Homo sapiens: one gene and its partners. The protein of the gene in region 4 interacts with the protein of the main gene of each other region in a biochemical or structural test. Each region holds a gene or a part of one and is shown on either strand. Other genes may lie near its edges. The genes, in order: ZBTB38, CRYBG3, ARHGEF18 and ZMYND11.

Region 1 (4,583 bases), on a different chromosome or scaffold from region 4:
TGATGCTGATCACATGGATGCTGCCTGCACGGCTGCCCTCTGTCCTCCTGGGTCCAGCTTCTTCAGTGCTACCACCTCAGGGATCAGGGCACACCACAGTCTGGCCCCATTAGGTGACCAAGATGGGCACGTGGGCCCCTTGCTAGGTCTAGGCTGCCCAAGAGTGTCTTGAAGTACGGGCATGCCTATCTGAGGGCAGGTAAGAGCTCCTTGGCTGAGGCAGGGCGTTGCCTCAGGAGTGAATCTTCTCATTGGCGCCTTTTGTCTCTTACCTAAAGGTTGGGTGACTCTGGGCCCTTTGTCTAGTTCAACCTTTGCCATTAAATCTCTGAGTGACCACCAGGAAGTAAATGAACCATTATGGGCCTCAGTGATTTCATGTGTACAATATGGTTTCTTGATTCCCTAGCTAATAATCTTTTTACTACATCATATTACAGTTAAAGGAAAATCTAAAAATCAGAAGCCAAAAAAAGACTTTAAGTTAAATTCTGGCATAGACATACTAGCTCAGAGTTTCCTAATTTTTTTTGTCTAATAAATGTTTGCCAACTGAATATTTGTTGAACTGAATGCAGCATGTCAATAGTTCTCAGGCATTAATGCAGAAGAATTGGGAGGGCAGGTTAAAATGCATATCCCCAGGCTCCTCCTCAGAGCTTCCAATACCACTGGGGCCTAGCAGCATGCATTTTAATGTGAGAAACTAAAAAAGACCAAGGTTTTGAAATAGACATTCGTACCTTTCTAGGGGCCAATTCACCAATATGCATTAGAAACTTTAAAAATAGTAGAACACTAAAGTGAATCAAAATGTCCAACAACAAAAAACTGATACATTAAAATGTATCAGTGCAATGGAAATAGAGCCATTAAAAATCATGTTTTCAAAGACCATCTAGTGATTTGGTAAAATGTTTACAACATAATGTTAAATGGGGGCAAAACACCACATAAAATACCATCTCAACAATTTTTAACATTTTGATGTATTTTTTCCAATTTTTTTCTTGTATATATTCTTCTCTCTTTTTAAAAAGGAGAGAATGGGGTGGGGTTGGGGTGAGGGGTTATACTAATGCTCTTTTGGACAAAGATGAGGGGTCCACTCTCTCCACTCTGGCTTGGAAGGCACTACCCAAGGTCAATGCCTCCGTGGAGGAGTTTCCAAGCCTCCTTATCCCAATGCACTGGGAGCCCCATAGAATGCCAGGAATCATCTTCTTTTGGCAGAGAGATGACTCATCCATCATTCCTCAAAGGTTTCAGTGAACCCCAGGTTAAATGTCCCTGTGAATAAGATCAGAAGCCTCTCCATGGGGAGTCTGGCCTACAATCAAACATGCTTTGGCTAGTTAGAAGTGATGCTAAGGCTCCCAGATGAAAGTCAATTTAGAAAGACAAAAAAATCTTTAAAATAATGATAATAACAATATCAAAAGTCAAAGCACCAATACTGACCATAATTATGATGATTATTTTTTATCAACACTTTTTTTTTTTTTTCCTCTGTTGCCTAGGCTGGAGTACAGTGGCCCAGTCGTGGCTCACCACAACCTCCGCCTCCTGGGTTCAACCAATTCTCATACCTCAGCCTCCCAAGAAGCTGGGATTACAGGCATGTGCCACCAAGCCCAGCTAATTTTTGTATTTTTAGTAGAGGCAGGGCTTCACGATTTTGGCTGGGCTGGTCTTGAACTCCTGGCCTCAAGCAATCTGCGCACCTCAGCCTCCCAAAGTGCTGGGATTTCCGGTGTGAGCCACCACTCCCGGCCTTTATCAGCAGTTTACCTTGACATGCACTTTTCTAAGTTGCCCATATCATTTTGCATATATCACCTACTTATTCTGACAGAGTCTCAGCATTACATTTTCTAACAATACTATTTTGGAGGTAGGAGGGAGCTTTAAAGTTCTGATGAAAACCAGAAGCTTCTTGAGTTAAAAACAAAACCCTGAAGTGTGGTATTTTCCAACTTGGTTCTTGACAAGAAATTAGGGGATTTCAGTGTGAGAAATTATAAAGCCCTATTACTATGAATTCTTAGTTTTGGTGAATATGATGTGGTATTTCTGCAAAACTCTCTAAGGAGAGTGACAGAACATTCATGATGCTGACCCATGGGGAGAAAGGAGCTTGCACACCTGTGCTATGACAATTCTAAAACCTCAGGGATTAAAATACTCAACTAGTGTAAGAGCTGCCTGTGTGAGACTGTGTGCTCAGTCCACATCTGCTCATCATGGCTCAACAAGGCCAGGCTCAGATCTTTAGATGACCTAAGCTCTGAAAAGACTATAGTGCCTCAAATTTGAATTATTACTCCCATGTGAAATTAAAATAGAAAAAAATAACAAAATACAAAATTAAGGTTGAGAAAGCTCAACAAAGTCTAACTTTTCCCAGGCTGTCTCCTTTGATGCTTTTTTTGAAATGTCAAATATCAAAATATTTACAAAATGTGTGTTTGTACACAATCCTGCTTTGCTGATGTTGTCTGTGAGGTCACTCAGCATCCAGTGGTCACAGGGATCTATGGCTTTCTTTCAAACACAAAGTGTTGACAGTAGTGAAATTCTGGTACCTGATGTGGTGGTCTTACTCCCCTTCCTGTAGTAATATGCAGCTAGAAATTAGAAATCAGGAGGCTGGCCCCCTCCCCCAACCCTAACACCATTCATATGTCAACTACTGCATACTTAGTGCTTTGAGGAGTCATAACAGATGGTAGTTGAAATTAGCAAGCTGTGATTAGCCATTCTCCCACATGAATGGACCCTGATGTTGACTGAGACCTTTGGCTCTGCCCTTCCTGAAAGACTCTGTTAGGCTAGGACTTCCAGCAACACATCATCCCCATTTGGCTCCAGCTTTTGAAATCTGGCACATATTCTTAACTTATTCCTTCAACTGCACCCTTCTAGCAGGCACTGTATTCCCCATTCACCTGGTCTTTTTTTTTTTTTTTGGAGATGGAGTTTCTCTCTTGTTGCCCAGGCCGGAGTCCTGTGGTGTGATCTCGGTTCACTGCAACCTCTGCCTCCCAGGTTCAAGCAATTCCCCTGCCTCAGCCTCCCAAGTAGCTGGGATTATAGGTGTGCGCCACCCTGCTCGGCTAATTTTGTATTTTTTTTTAGTAGAGATGGGGTTTCACCATGTTGGTCAGGCTGGTCTTGAACTCCTGACCTCAAGTGATCCACCTGCCTCGGCCTCCCAAAGTGCAGGGATTATAGGCATGAGCCACCATGCCCAGCCCAACCTGGTCTTATCATTAGCTTATACCACTAGCCCAGCCAGCTCCCCGATCAATAGACACTTTCAGTTCCTAACAACTTGGAAAGACAGACTTTCAGAGGCTGAAGTATTTTTGCAGCAACTCATCTTGTTATTCTATTCCATTCCTCCTCAGCTCCATCCTAATGTAAGGGGACTGGGCAGAGGCTAGGCAGCCATAACAGGAGAGTAGGCCAGGCATCAGCCTCTGTCAGATATCTGAGAAGCTGTGGCAAATTGGCCAGTAACAGGTATCCCCACACAACAGACAATACATGCTCTTCAGGGTGTGGATGTGGGTGCCAGAAAGGTCAAGTCCAGGGGCAAAAGTCAATCAGAAACCAGAGTGTTTAGTCAGATATTGACAAAACTAGAGAACTAGGTACCAGGCACCTCAGGCAAAGACTTGAGTTCATTTTTATTTCACACCTTTAAGTCTGGGGCATCACAAGGCACCCATCATATGGTTTATATTTACGAATGAGGGGAATACTTCACCAACATCAACAATGGTTAGAAGGTTACATAAAATGTTAAACTTATTAAAAGTTCTCCAAACAGAGCTTACAACTTTACCACTTATTATTTCAGTAAATGTTTTGAAACTTTTCCTGAAAATAAAAAGCTAGACATATATATCACATCTTTTGGGGTAGCATTAATAGCCCCAGCCTGAGACTTTTTAGTCTACTTTTAAATGTTTCTCGGCTGGGCCCGGTGGCTCATGCCTGTTATCCTAGCACTTTGGGAGGCCAAGGTGGGTGGTGGATTGCTTGAGCCCAGGAGTTCAAGACCAGCCTGGGCAACATGGTGAAACCTTGTTTCTACAAAAAATACAAAAATTAGCCAGGCATGGTGACACATGCCTGTAGTCTCAGCTACTTGGGAGGATCGCTTGAGCCTGAGAAGTTGAGGCTGCAGTGAGCCATGATCGTGCCACTGCACTCCAGCCTGGGTGACAGAGTGAAACCCTGTCTCAAAGAAAAAAAAAGTTTCTCGGCTGGGCGCTATGGCTCATGTCTGTAATCTCAGCACTTTGGCAGGCCAAGGCCGGCAGATCACGAGGTCAAGAGATGGAGACCATCCTGGCCAACATGGTGAAACCCCATCTCTACTAAAAATACAAAAATTAGCTGGGTGTGGTGGTGCGTGCCTGCAGTCCCAGCTACTCAGGAGGCTGAGGCAGTAGAATCACTTGAACCTGGGAGGCAGAGGTTGCAGTGAACTGAGATCATGCCGATGCACTCCAGCCTGGCAACAGAGTGAGACTCTGCCTCAAAAAAAAAAAAAAAAAAAAAAAAAAGAAAGA
Region 2 (4,583 bases), on a different chromosome or scaffold from region 4:
CAGGTGAAACCTCACTAGATAGAATGTCCTCCTGTGAGCTGTCATCCTCATAAATGGGAGACAATGCTAAAGGATAAATTTTGTACCTTTTGGCCTCCACTGATAAGAACATTTCTGAACTATCACTATCAAATGTCTCACCTAATTTAGTACCTTTTTCAAAGTGATGGACAAGGTCAGTTCTACTCTCAGACCTTTCACATGCCAGAACAGGCATGCTGTCAGCGGACGTATCATGAAACAAGACAGACTGTGTTTGTCTTGCTTCTGCGGAAGCATACTTGTCCTCCTCTTGAAGGGGCTCTTCGTATAATATAGTAAAGGAAGAATTTTCTTGTTCATCTTGAGAAACAAAAGCTAAATTATATCCTTTGTCACTATAATCTGTCTCTCTCCTCTTGTCATATATTGCAGTAAGAGACATTCTTTTGTCTAGTCTTACTGTGGTATCCCCAGGTTGAAAATCTGGCATTGCTGGGGCTGGGTAGCCCTCATAATCCTTACTTAATGTAGGGGATTCATATCCCCTGAAATATGTAGGAAGTCTATTTTCATGTGCTATCAAGCCTTCCTTTATTTCTGTAGGCTCTTCCTTTGTTTCTTCAACACTCCCTTCAGCATACTCTTGTGGTGTTTTACTTTCAAATGCAGGAAGCATGGCCTCCCCTTGTTTAGTGGTCAATTCTAGTCCTGTTCCATGTATTTTCTCAATGTCTACCACTGCGGGTAACACTTTGTGTTTCCCAATATTCTCACCACGATCTTCTGGGGATATTTTTTCCATTTCTATCACAGAGGGTGTGGACACAGTTGCTCCAATAGTCTCTTTAACATCTCTCTTGCATGCTTTTTCCATTTCTAAGGGGGCAGGTGCTGTCTCGTGTGCTTCCTTCACTTTTAACACACACGGTACTATTTCAGTATTCTTAATGACCTCTTCAGCAGTCTTTCGGTAAGTAGCTTCCATTTTCAACACAGACCCTTCAGTGTTCCCGGTAAAACCTTTGGCATTTTTTTGGTAAGTATTTACTACCTCTAATGCAAGGGGCATCACCTCAGTTTTGCCACCGTCTCTTTCAGTATCCTTTGGGTAAGTATTTTCCATTTCTAACCTCACAGGCATCACTTCAGCCTTTCCAATATCCCCTTCAGCATCCTTTTGGTAAGTATTTTCCATTGCTAATGTAACGGGTATCACTTCAGCCTTTTCACTAATCCCTTCACCACCTTTTTGGTGGATATTTTCCACTTCTGACAAGGCTATCGTCCCAGTCTTGCCAATATCCCCTTCAGCATGCGTTTGGTAAATATTTTCCATGTCTACTGTAACAGGTGTCATCTCAGTCTTTACAATATCCCCTTCAGCATCCTTTTGGTGGATATTTTTCACTTCTGGCATCATAGGTATCACCTCAATTTTGCCAATATCCCCTTCAGTATCCTTCATCTTATAAGCTTTTTCCATTCCTAAAATGACAGCTGATCCCTCAGTTTTTTCAATACAGCTCTCGGCATCCATTTGGTATACTTCTCCCATTTTAAAAACATTAGCTTTTGGCTCAGTTTTCGTGACATTCAATTCAGCATCCATTTTATGTATTCTTCCCATTTCTATCATAGGAGGGACTGCCTCATATTTCAGAATATTCAATTCAGCATCCTTTTTGTTTGTTTTCCCTGTTTCTAACATGGAAGGTATAAGTTCAATTTTCCCTATATTTATTTCATTATCCTTCTTGTGTACTTTCCCTACATCTGACATTGCAAGAGGTGTGTTTTTACTGTGTCCTGGCAAGTTTTTTTCAGATATACATACAAGGCTATCAGACAAACTGCTTTTAGATGTACCAGGTGCATGGATGTCATCATTCACAAGTGGAGGCCATTTGAAATTTAATACAAGAGTTCTTCTGTCCTCTGTCTCAGTTTTGTTATTATCCACATTCTCTATTTCCATTGTCTCATTACAGTCCTCACTGCGAAATAAATGTGTTTTTACCCTATCATCTAACCGTTTATGTGACATGTCTTCAGCTAGTAAAACCGTATCTGATTCCTGCAAATTTATACTATCAGACAGTCCAGATCCATTTCCAGAAAATAGGGATTTTTGGTAGAGAACAATTTCTCCTCCCTTAATTGACTCTGTGCCACTAGCTAAGTTACTTAGGGAGAAGAATTCATTTAATACTTTATTTTCACTAATTTGTGTGCTTTGATTTACTGGCTGTTCTGAAACCAAGAACTCTCTAACTACATCATGTGGCTTAACACTATCACTGTTCAGAATTTTTGAAGTATTAGCCTGAAGTTCAGAATCCCAAGTATCCTCAGTATCTTCAAAAGTATCATTTCTCAATTTTTCTTGGGCTACATAAATAATCTCATTGACTAATTCCCTAGCTTTATCTTCTAACAAACAAGATACATTCATACTATTAGGATCAACAAGAAGATTCTTCTCACCAACTGTTGGTGAAACACAGGGCTTCTCTTTGACTTCTGACATGTTTTCCATGCCTTGCTCTTCCAAACCCTCTGTCTGTTGTATTTCTGTTAGTGTCACTTCTGATGGGTTTTTCTCAGAGATGTCTTCTTTCAGGGTACCCAGATTCATTATACCTTCTATGGCTATATGCTCCTGGCAGGTACTCACTGTGTGTTTGAATTTTAGTTCTTCCCTGACAGAATTAAAAATCTCACCAATCAATGTATCGGCCTTTTTGAGTAAACTACTTTTGAGGTCCAAAAGTTGGTCATGTGCTCTTCTCCTGGCTTCTATGTGCTCAGCAGAGGCTTCAGAACACTGTTGGCCTGAGCTGTTAACTGACGCTGCAGGCCCAGCAACTGCTCCAGTCTCTGCTTCCACGAGATTGTCAAATTGGGCAGCAGTTGGGAAATCAATGGATATCTTCCCAGTATAAATCCCAAAATGTTCCTGAAATGGGGTTACTTCTGTCCCAATTGAGACAGACGTTTCAAATTCCAAATAAGAGGTAGTAGGGTACAACAGGTTAGTTACAGAGGTACCTTCATGTGTGAGATCTTTGGTAACTTGTATAGAATCCAAATTATTTTGGGGCTTATGTGAATTTACTATCATGCTAACTTCTTCAGGGTAACTAGAGGAAGATGACACACTATCAATACCACCATTTAAAAAATGGATGTTCTCTTTCTTTCTGTAAGATGAGGATTTCTTTTCCAATTTCAGCACAGAAGGTACTTTAAGGAAGCTTGAGTCCTCAGATGCAGAAGAATTTTTTTCCAAACTGGAATCAGAATCCAGAAAAGGTGAATTTACTTTCATGCTGCCAGTTTCTTGGAATTTAGGGGAAATATTAGTTAAGCTGAGTTCCGCCATTTCTGAGTGACCAGAAATCTTTTTAGTCCCACAAATATCCAAAGATTGATGAAACACACAAGTGTGAGCTTCACAATTCTGCGCCATTTGCCTACTGATTTTTTCATCATGAATAGGTGGTAAAATCCAAGATATATTACTTTTAAGAAGAGCAGGAGGAGAGCCTAAGGCATCTACCTCTGGTTCTGGCTTATCTTCATATTTGGAGGCAGCAGGAGAAAGCTCAGCTTGGCAATTCTCTTTAAGGCCAGCATCTGAACATTTCTCTCCTATCTCATTATGATTAATTGATTGAAAACGTTTGCCCTGTTCAACTTCTAGAAAGGTTAATTCTGACAAAATAGGCTTTTCTGGAACATGGGTAATTTTCAATGGAAAAGAAGACATTTTATCCTGAGAAATGTTTCTGGGCTCCACTTTTGAAAGAGATACCTTGGACAAGGATATAGTTTTTCCTCTTCCAGAATGTGACTCCACAAGAACATTGTTCTGACCATCAATTTCAGCTTTTGATACAATGTTAGCAGTTTTGGCTTCCAAGGAAAGAGAATCAGACTTCTCTATTATGCTCATATTTGCTTTAGTGTTTGAAGACACTAACTCTACTCTATTAGGGTCTTGAGATAAAATGGAACTGCAATCCTTAGAGAGGTTTCCAGAGTCAAAGCTCAATAGCTCCAACCCAGTTAAGTGAGGGCCACTGGCTTCAGAACCTGGAAGAACCTGGCATTTTTCACTATTAGAAAGAACTTCTTTGAATTCAAAAATTGCAGATGTATATTCAAGGCAAAAGGAAGGAGGAGGACTCTTCCTGCCTGCAGCCTCAACATGGTTTTTCACATTTTCTTCTTTACACTTCCTAGGCTGATAGGAAATACCAACAATGTTGACATTCCCAGTTTCAATGGGCACAGGAGAACCCTCATTCATTAAATCAGGAATATCCAACTTGCTCAGCATCCCAACTCCAGAAACAAAGGTAGGAGGTGAAATACTGAAATTTAGTTTTTTACAGTCAAGGCTAAGAGATGTTTTAGCATCAGGTGATACTTCAGCTTGTTGAGGACTCTCAGAGTCAAGAGGAGTTTCTGAAATGTGACTTCTATTAAGTTCAAATTTCAACTCAGGTGCATTTTCATTTCCTAAGCTTGCTACAACTGCTGATTCACTGATGTAATTTAAAGAGGCCAGGTCTTTTTTATTCATTCTAATATGAGGA
Region 3 (5,044 bases), on a different chromosome or scaffold from region 4:
AAGAAACACAGACAATAGCAACAGCCCTACAGGAGATAAAGATGCTAGAATTAAAAATACAACAGGCCAGGTGCAGTGGCTTACATCTGTAATCCCAGCACTTTGGGAGGCCAAGGCAGGTGGATCACCTGAGGTCAGGAATTCAAGACCAGCCTGGGTAACATGGTGAAACCCTGTCTCTACTAAAACTACTAAAATTAGCCAGGTGTGGTGGTATGCATTTATAATCCCAGCTACTCAGGAGGCTGAGGCAGGAGAACTGCTTGAACCCAGGAGGTGGAGGTTGCAGTGAGCTGAGACTGTGCCACTGCACTCCAGCCTGGGCAACTCTGTCTCAGAAAAAAAAAAAAAAAAGAGAGAGAGAGAGAGGCAGAGAGAAAATACAGTAGCATATGATACAGGGATGGCTGGATGGGATCCTTAAGAAGTCCACTCTAGCTGGGCACAGTGGGTCATGCCTGTAATCCCAGCACTTTGGGAGGCTGAGGTGGGGGGATCACAAGGTCAGGAGATCAAGACCATCCTGGCTAACACGGTGAAACCCCGTCTCTATTAAAAATACATAAAATTAGCCGGGCATGGTGGCGGGCGCCTGTAGTCCCAGCTACTTGGGAGGCTGAGGCAGGAGAATGGCGTGAACCCGGGAGGTGGAGCTTGCAGTGAGCCGAGATCGTGCCACTGCACTCCAGCCTGGGCAATAGAACAAGACTCCATCTCAAAACAAACAAACAAACAAACAAACAAACAAACAAAAGAAGTCCACTCTAGCAGACTTGCTTACAGATTGAGATCCACCATGGGTATGACCCAGAACATTTCAGAAGATGGTGGGACTGCTCAGGAAGGAAGGCCTGGGGACAAGGTCAGTATGAAGGCATAGGTGAGGCTGACAATGTTTTCTGATCTATTACGTGCCAGACACTGCACTAAGATCTCACAGACCAAACTTCATAAAGGCTGAGCGAGGTGGTTCATGCCTGTAATCCCAGCACTTTGGGAGGCCAAGGCAGGCAGATCACCTGAGGTCAGGAGTTCAAGACCAGCCTAACCAATATGGTGAAACCCTGTCTCTACTAAAAATACAAAAATTAGCTGGGCATGGAGGCGTGTGCCTGTAATCCCAGCTACTTGGGAGGCTGAGGCAGGAGAATTGCTTAAACCCGAGAGGCGGAGGTTGCAGTGAGCTGAGATTGCACCAATGTACTCCAGCCTGGGCGATAGAGCAAGATTCTATCTCCAACACACACACACACACACACACACACACACACACACACACACACACACACACCCACCCCAAAAAACTCAACAGCCTTTTAACAGATGAGCAAACGAAAGCTCAGAGCAGTTAAGTCATTTGCCCAAGGCCACATAGAGGCCAGGGAACTGGGATTTGAACGCCCAGCTGTCCAACACAGTCACCATGTCATCTACAACAGTATCGAGCATCAACATATGCCCATCCCTTTGTCATGGGCTAGGGGATGCCCAGGGAGGCATGGGAGACAGCCCAGACCAGAAGCACCGACGTGTTTGCAGTTGCCATCTACTGGTTCTTCAAGGCATAATGAAAAGGCTGCCTCTACCAAGCAGCCCTCCCAGAGTGACTCCCAGTCACAGCAAGGGAGTTGAAATGTGGCTGATTATGAGGGCAACCCTTTCCTGACCTCCTTTGGTTGTCATGTTCTTTTCTCAGAACTGCAGGTGACCTGGCCTTGGAGCATCAGCCCCCAGCGTCACTTCCTAGCTCCATCCTCTCTGGCCCCAGCTGTCCACTCTAGCTCAATTCACTCCCTCCTGGTTCTGGGGCCACCTTCCTAGACCTCAGGGTGCCTGAAGCCTGCCCTGCAGCATTGGGGGCTGGCAGGAAACAACAGACTGGGTGTGCCCAGCAGAAACCGCAGCCTTCCTCCCCCACCCCTCCCAGTCCCAGGCAGGCGGTGGTGCAGGAGGTCCCCCTAAGAAGGGGCCACGAGAGGAGACAGGGGATGTCTCCCAAGGGGGAGAACCCTCACCTGGAGGAAGGCTGCCTGGGTGGAGGGATGTGCTCTCTGGATGATTTCAGATCAGGACAAGACCCTTCTCAGGGCTGGTTGTCAGCCATCAGCCTTAAGTGTGAGTTTGTTTTGACAGTGGATTCAGAATCTGCAACAGGGAGGTTCTTGGGGGGCCCGGAATCTGCAGTTTAAGATGCAAAGGGCACCTGAGCCTTTGCCCCAGCTCCCCCATTCATTCTCTGTCTCCTGTCTCCACGCAGGAGGGCCTTGGCTACAAGGAGCTCTATCGTCCTTTCTTTGCTTTTCTTTTTCTTTTCTTTGTTTTGAGACTGAGAGGCTCACTTCAACCTCTACCTCCCGGGTTCAAGCCATTCTCCTGCCTCAGCCTCCCGAGTAGCTGAGATTACAGCTGCCCGCCACCACGCCTGGCTAATTTTTGTATTTTTAGTAGAGACGGGGTTTCACCATGTTGGCCGGGCTGGTCTCCAACTCTTGACCTCAAGTGATCCGCCCTCCTCAGCCTCCCAAAGTGCTAGGATTACAGGTGTGAGCCACCGCGCCCGGCCTCCACCCTCCTTTCTTACCTAGCAGCCCCTCAAGGATCCCCGTCCCCTGGGGTGACCTCTTATGACCACAGATCTCTGCACAATGAACGCAAGGGTCAAACAGCTTCCCCCACCCACTCAGGAAGCAAGTTGACTGCAAGGGGGAGAGAAACAGTGATGTATGTCTGCTCGCTGTCCCCCTAGACTTCCCAGACCCCACTGCCACTCTGTCCCGATGGGTCCATCTCTCTCCACTTCCCAGGATAAGTACTTACCAGATAGAGCTCAGTTCTTCAACCTGCAGGCACCTAGCCTGGCTAACAGCTCCTGCAGCTCCCATGACCTACGGCCAGCGTTTCGAGCTGGCCCAAGGGAACCGCTGGCTGGGTAGAGCCTGGGATAACCACAGAATGACCCAATAGCACCTCGACTTCCTCTTTCTCAACTGCCTGCCTGCATGCTTGCCACTCTGCTCCCAGCTGCAGGCCAATCTAGGGGCCTAAAAAGAGCCCAGAGGATGGGGGTTCTGGAGGCAGAGAGCCCTGCTCCCACCCCTCAGCCCTGCGCATGCAGGTGTCTTGAGGAGGAGGGGTGGGGAGCTGGAGGGAGGCCCAGCGTCCTCAACCCCCACCCCAGCAGCTTCCTGTGGAACCAACTGCTGAAGAGGAACAGGGTGTGGGGGCCTCACCCAGGCACATGGGTGTATAGACAGCAACATATAGGGACGTGCAGGTCATGTGTATCCGTAGAGACTCAGGCACCCAGACACACACCAGCATGGTGGGTACACACAGAGAGACAGAAACACACGTGGCTACATTGTTACATGGGTACCTGGAAGCTGGCGGAACAACATGGTGTGCTGGTAACGTTTAACAACCACCTCTCCGATTTGTAGCCATTGCCAATTCTCCTGGTGTAAATACCCCCAGCATGGCCGATTTCACCTACCAGTGTGATGTCACCGAGTGTGGAGTTGATAGGAAATGCTCAGATTTGGCTTTTTTTAGAAAACAACAACAACAACAACAAAAAACTGTTTATTTTATTTTTAGAGATAGGGTCTCATTCTGTCATCCAGTCTGGAGTGCAGTGGAAAAATCATAGCTCACTGCAGCCTCAATCTCTTGGGCTCAAGTGATCCTTCTGCTTCAGCCTCCTGAGTAGTTGGGATTACAGGCACATGCCACCATGCCTGGCTAAGTTTTTTGTTTACAGATAATTTATGTATAATTTATATATACTTTATATATAATTATATATGGATTATATATAGACTTATATATAATTTATATATAATTTTTTATATATAATTTTTCTTTTGAGACAGGCTCTCACTCTGTCATCCAGGCTGGAGTGCAGTGGGGGTGATTTTGGTTCATTGCAACCTCCATCCCCTGGGCTCAAGTGATCCTCCCACCTCCGCCTCCTGAGTAGCTGGGACCACAGGCACACATCACCACGCCTGGCTATTTTTTTTTGGTTTGTATTTTTAGTACAGACAGGGTCTCACCATATTGCCCAGGCTGGTCTCGAACTCCTGGGCTCAAGCAATCCTCCCACCTTGGCCTCCCAAAGTGCTGGGATTAGAGGCACGAGACATGGCGCCCAGCCTAAGTTAATTTTTTTTTTTTGTAGAGACAGGGATTTTATTATGTTTCCCAGGCTGGTCTCAAACTCCTGGGCTCAAGCAGTCCACCCGCCTTGGCCTCCCAAAGTGCTGGGATTACAGGCATGAGCCATGATGCTCCACTAAACTTGGCTCTTGGGCTGGCTTCAGCCTGTCACTGGAGTGAGTACTCTACAAAAAATTTAAAACTTCGCCACATTTGGTGGTGCCTGCCTGCAGTCCCAGCCGCTCCGGAGGCTGAGGCGGGGAGGCTCACTTGAGCCCAGGTGTTCAAAGCTGCAGTGACCTATAATTGTGCCACCGTACTCCAGCCTGGGTGACAGAGTGAAATCCCATTTTTTTTAAAGAAAGTTAAAATGGTAAATTTTACGTTATGCCTATTTTACCACATTTAAATTAATCACTTTAACATTATTTTTGCTGCATTTTCCATAATCTATGCTTTTTTTCCTTTTCCTTTTTTTTTTTTTTTTTTTTTTTTTTTTTTTTTTGAGATGGAGTCTTGCTCTGTTGCCCGGGCTGGAGTGCAGTGGTGCAATCTCAGCTCACTGCAACCTCTGCCTCCTGGGTTCAAGTGATTCTCCTGCCTCAGCCTCCCAGGTAGCTGGGATTATAGGTGACCCCCACCACACCAGGCTAATTTTTGTATTTTTAGTAGAGACGGGATTTCACTATGTTGGCCAGGCTGGTCTCGAACTCCGGACCTCAGAGGATTCGCCCACCTCAGCCTCCGGAAGTGCTGGGGTTACAGGTGTGAGCCACCACACCTGGCCTCATAATCTATGCTTTTGATGTTGCTTTTGTGTATGGAACCTGTTTGGTAGAAATACTGTATAATGGTTTGCTGCTGTCCATATCTTTCTGACTCACTG
Region 4 (3,425 bases):
GAAGTGGAGTGAGGCAGGGGAAGGTGATGGGTTTGATTCCAGATGTATTGAACTTGATGACTTCAATTTCAAATGTTTGTCAAATAATTTTCTATCCATATATTCAGCCTAGCGTAAGAGTTAAGAAAATGGGTTTTACAATCAAACAGAACTGAGCTTGAGACTGACCTACTGGGTAAATCTGAGCAAGTTATTACATCTTTTTAAACTTCCCTGTTTACACCTATCTTGTCTTGAGTAGCCCGACCAAAGCTATTACTTTCCTCCAGTTGCACACTTTTCCTTCTTGTTTATGAAAAGATCACTTTCACACAAGTATCCTATTTCTAGTTTTATTTTCTTTTAATATTGGAATGTGGCAAAATGCTTTTTATTCTCTAAGCCACTTGCTTCACTACTTCAATTTGGTCGCCCCCAATTACAGAAGCAACCTTGTCACTTCACTCACTCCATACACCCTCCTAGAGGCCTTCTTTCACTTTGCTGTCATCAATGACTGAAATTTTTAGTGATACTCATGTATTATAGATATGGGTTTCATATTTGTCAGTTGGAATTTTTTTATTGAAAAGACTTTTAGAACACAATTCTAATAATTAAGGTCTAGAATCAGAGTTGGCATTTCATAAAATAACAAGTGACACTTTTTTTTTTTTTGAGATGGAGTCTCGCTGTGTTGCCCAGCCAGGCTGGAGTGCAATCGGGTGATCTCGGCTCACTGCAACCTCTGCCTCCCAGGTTCAAGAGATTCTCCCGCCTCAGCCTCCCAAGTAGCTGGGATTACAGGCACCTGCCTTCATGCCCGGCTAATTTTTTTTGTATTTTTGTACAGACAGGGTTTCACCATGTTGGCCAGGCTGGTCTCGAACTCCTGACTTCAGGTGATCCACCCACCTTGGTCTCCCAAAGTGCTGGGATTACAGGCATGAGCCACCACGCCTGGCCGACACCTCATTTTTGAGGACCAGTAAGCCTGTTGCTTAGGAAAATATATCTAGAAGAACAAAGACAAAATGAGGGTGAATAGAATGATACTACTACTACTGTTGGAAACTTTACAATCCTACAGGAACTGGGACTTTAATATTCAGACCTAAACCATCTGATCCCAGTTGTGATACGTCTATCACATGAATGATGAATGATGGCATGAATGATGAAAACCAGAGTACCGACTAAGGCTGGGTTAATGTTGGCACTAAGACCTGGGGCTGGTCAACTACCCACAACTACCATACCAAGAAGTAGATGAAAACAGCAGAGGGTTAGCCTCAGCTGGCCTCCAATTAAGAATCTATTCCATTCTGAGTTGTGTATCTGTTTTTCAGGCTGATTTGCAATAATTGATATGCAGCTGATATAATAATCATCCTCTCCTTATTATATCATGTATGGTCTTTTTGAGATCTGGTGAAAGTAAATTCAATTTATACGTTTAAGTGAACAAATGATGTTTAACACACTGATTTTATATAAAGTTAAGCAGTCACTAAAGAGTGACCCACAGTATGTGATCAACATTTAGCGACGGTAGTATTTGGTTGGGTATAGGGGACTACACTAAATAAACAAATTACTAAAGCTAGTTTTTTTTAAATACATTTATTAACCAATGTTAACACATTAAATGAATCTATATATTGCTAGTCAGAGCAGCTTACAAAATGCCAGAATGCATCATAGAACTGGACAGCCACAATGAATAATTACAATGTGCATAGTGGCTAAGCTCAACACCTCGATATAGCTTTATGATTTGCAGAAAATTTTTAATAATGATTCCTAAAACAATCAATTGTAATTTTACCTAAAACTTTTACAAAACCAGGCCACAATCTCTTTTTTTAATTTTGTTTTTTTTTAAACACACAGTTTTCACGCTGTAGTAACTTGGAAATGTGCAACCGTGTCAACAGAGACAGAAAAGCCAAAGTAACACGAATCTCACTTTCATGCAGCTATCAGTTAAATATTACATACTCTGGAATGATTTTACACCAAAAATATTTCCACAATTACTTGCTCTCATAGGGGTGGATCGAAGTCTTAAAACTTGAAAAACAATCAAAGAAGGTTAAGTGTTCTCGGTTCTGACATCTCCATCAGCGCCACACACTGTGGCAACACTGACTAATTACACAGCAACAAGGAGGGAACGATGATGCCAAGTTACTGCATAATTTAGGTACATTGTATGAAATGGGGCTACTGGGTACTTTTTACAAAATATTGTGCACCATTTGGCAGTAGTTTGTCAATTAACTTGTGTCACCACCATCTGCAACAGCATCAAGATTAGATGGATGATATTTCACAGAAGACTTAGTTACATTTTTATCTTTAGAGTGACCCTGACAAACCTGGAGAATACTTTTTAAAAGGCTTTTCTCCTGATTCTTTCACTTCCATTGTGAGTAATTGCTTTAATAAATATCAAAGGTCTAAATAAATATGTACAAATTATTCTCTAACCTCAAAAAATAACTAAATGATAAATGGGAATTTGACTTGGTCTAAGATCAGTCTTTAAAAATACCACATAAATTGTGAGATATTTTAAAAGAAAAGTAATTTAAGTTTTCCTGGCTGTATTTTATATATCTATGTATAAAAAATCATTATTCAACTATCGATCCATTCCTATTGGTAATGCTTCTTAATCCAGACATTCCGCAAAATACAGACTTTTTACAAATCACGGCATCTTTAATACAAGAAAATTAACATGCATTATTCTTCATTCTGTGTACAGTGATGGAGTTCATTAGTAGGCAATGACCCATTACTACAAACATAACGGCTTCTGTGAAACTTAAGTGCTTTCTCTTCTTTTAGTATTAACTTACGATACATGAGGTGACACCAGATAATAGGCAGTGAGATGATATGTGGGAAGGGAAGGGAAGCATTAAACAAATTCGTATGCCTCATCTATAATTTCACATATGGATAAAGGTAGTTTTTGGCTTTGTTTTTGTTGTTTATTTTGTTACAAGCACTCATGTTAGGACAAAGATGAAATGTGCAAACTTTAAAATTTAAATATTCATTTTCTCTAAGATCCAGCTCAGTAAAAGATTACCCCAGTTCCCTGCAATTTTAAACTACAAGATCAAAGCTAATAATTTGTTATAAAAGTTATATATTGAAAAGAAATAATGAAAAACACAATTGGGAAATATTTAAGAAAAAATATGCAGGACTAGCCCTGCTGTGTCAACCCTGTTCCCTAAATTCAATCATATACCCACTGGTGTGACCAACAGATAATGCCTTTGAACAGTAAATTAAGCTGAACAAAACCAGCTCAACAAGGTTAAGAAAAAAATGTCACATCAAGGTAGTATGTTTTATTTCTGAAACAGTTCTGTAGTTCTTACATTCAGATCTATTCTAAATGTTTCTTTGTTAAACTCACTTGTATT

Evidence for each region.
Region 1: the proteins of ZMYND11 (region 4) and ZBTB38 interact in a surface display test, tested with the Homo sapiens proteins (one large-scale study listed by IntAct).
Region 2: the proteins of ZMYND11 (region 4) and CRYBG3 interact in a surface display test, tested with the Homo sapiens proteins (one large-scale study listed by IntAct).
Region 3: the proteins of ZMYND11 (region 4) and ARHGEF18 interact in a test that uses a peptide from one of them, tested with the Homo sapiens proteins (one large-scale study listed by BioGRID and IntAct).

Annotation. Positions count from the first base shown.
Region 1 is NC_000003.12:141,371,040-141,375,622, reverse strand, and holds part of ZBTB38 (zinc finger and BTB domain-containing protein 38), read right to left. Parts: intron 1-4,583. UniProt on the Homo sapiens protein: Transcriptional regulator with bimodal DNA-binding specificity. Binds with a higher affinity to methylated CpG dinucleotides in the consensus sequence 5'-CGCG-3' but can also bind to E-box elements (5'-CACGTG-3').
Region 2 is NC_000003.12:97,872,928-97,877,510, reverse strand, and holds part of CRYBG3 (very large A-kinase anchor protein), read right to left. Parts: coding exon 1-4,583.
Region 3 is NC_000019.10:7,347,015-7,352,058, reverse strand, and holds the start of ARHGEF18 (rho guanine nucleotide exchange factor 18), read right to left. Parts: upstream 3,123-5,044; 5' UTR 2,818-3,122; intron 2,179-2,817; exon of another isoform or gene 2,016-2,178; intron 1-2,015. UniProt on the Homo sapiens protein: Acts as a guanine nucleotide exchange factor (GEF) for RhoA GTPases. Its activation induces formation of actin stress fibers. Also acts as a GEF for RAC1, inducing production of reactive oxygen species (ROS). Does not act as a GEF for CDC42.
Region 4 is NC_000010.11:252,796-256,220, reverse strand, and holds the end of ZMYND11 (zinc finger MYND domain-containing protein 11), read right to left. Parts: 3' UTR 1,584-3,425; downstream 1-1,583. UniProt on the Homo sapiens protein: Chromatin reader that specifically recognizes and binds histone H3.3 trimethylated at 'Lys-36' (H3.3K36me3) and regulates RNA polymerase II elongation. Does not bind other histone H3 subtypes (H3.1 or H3.2).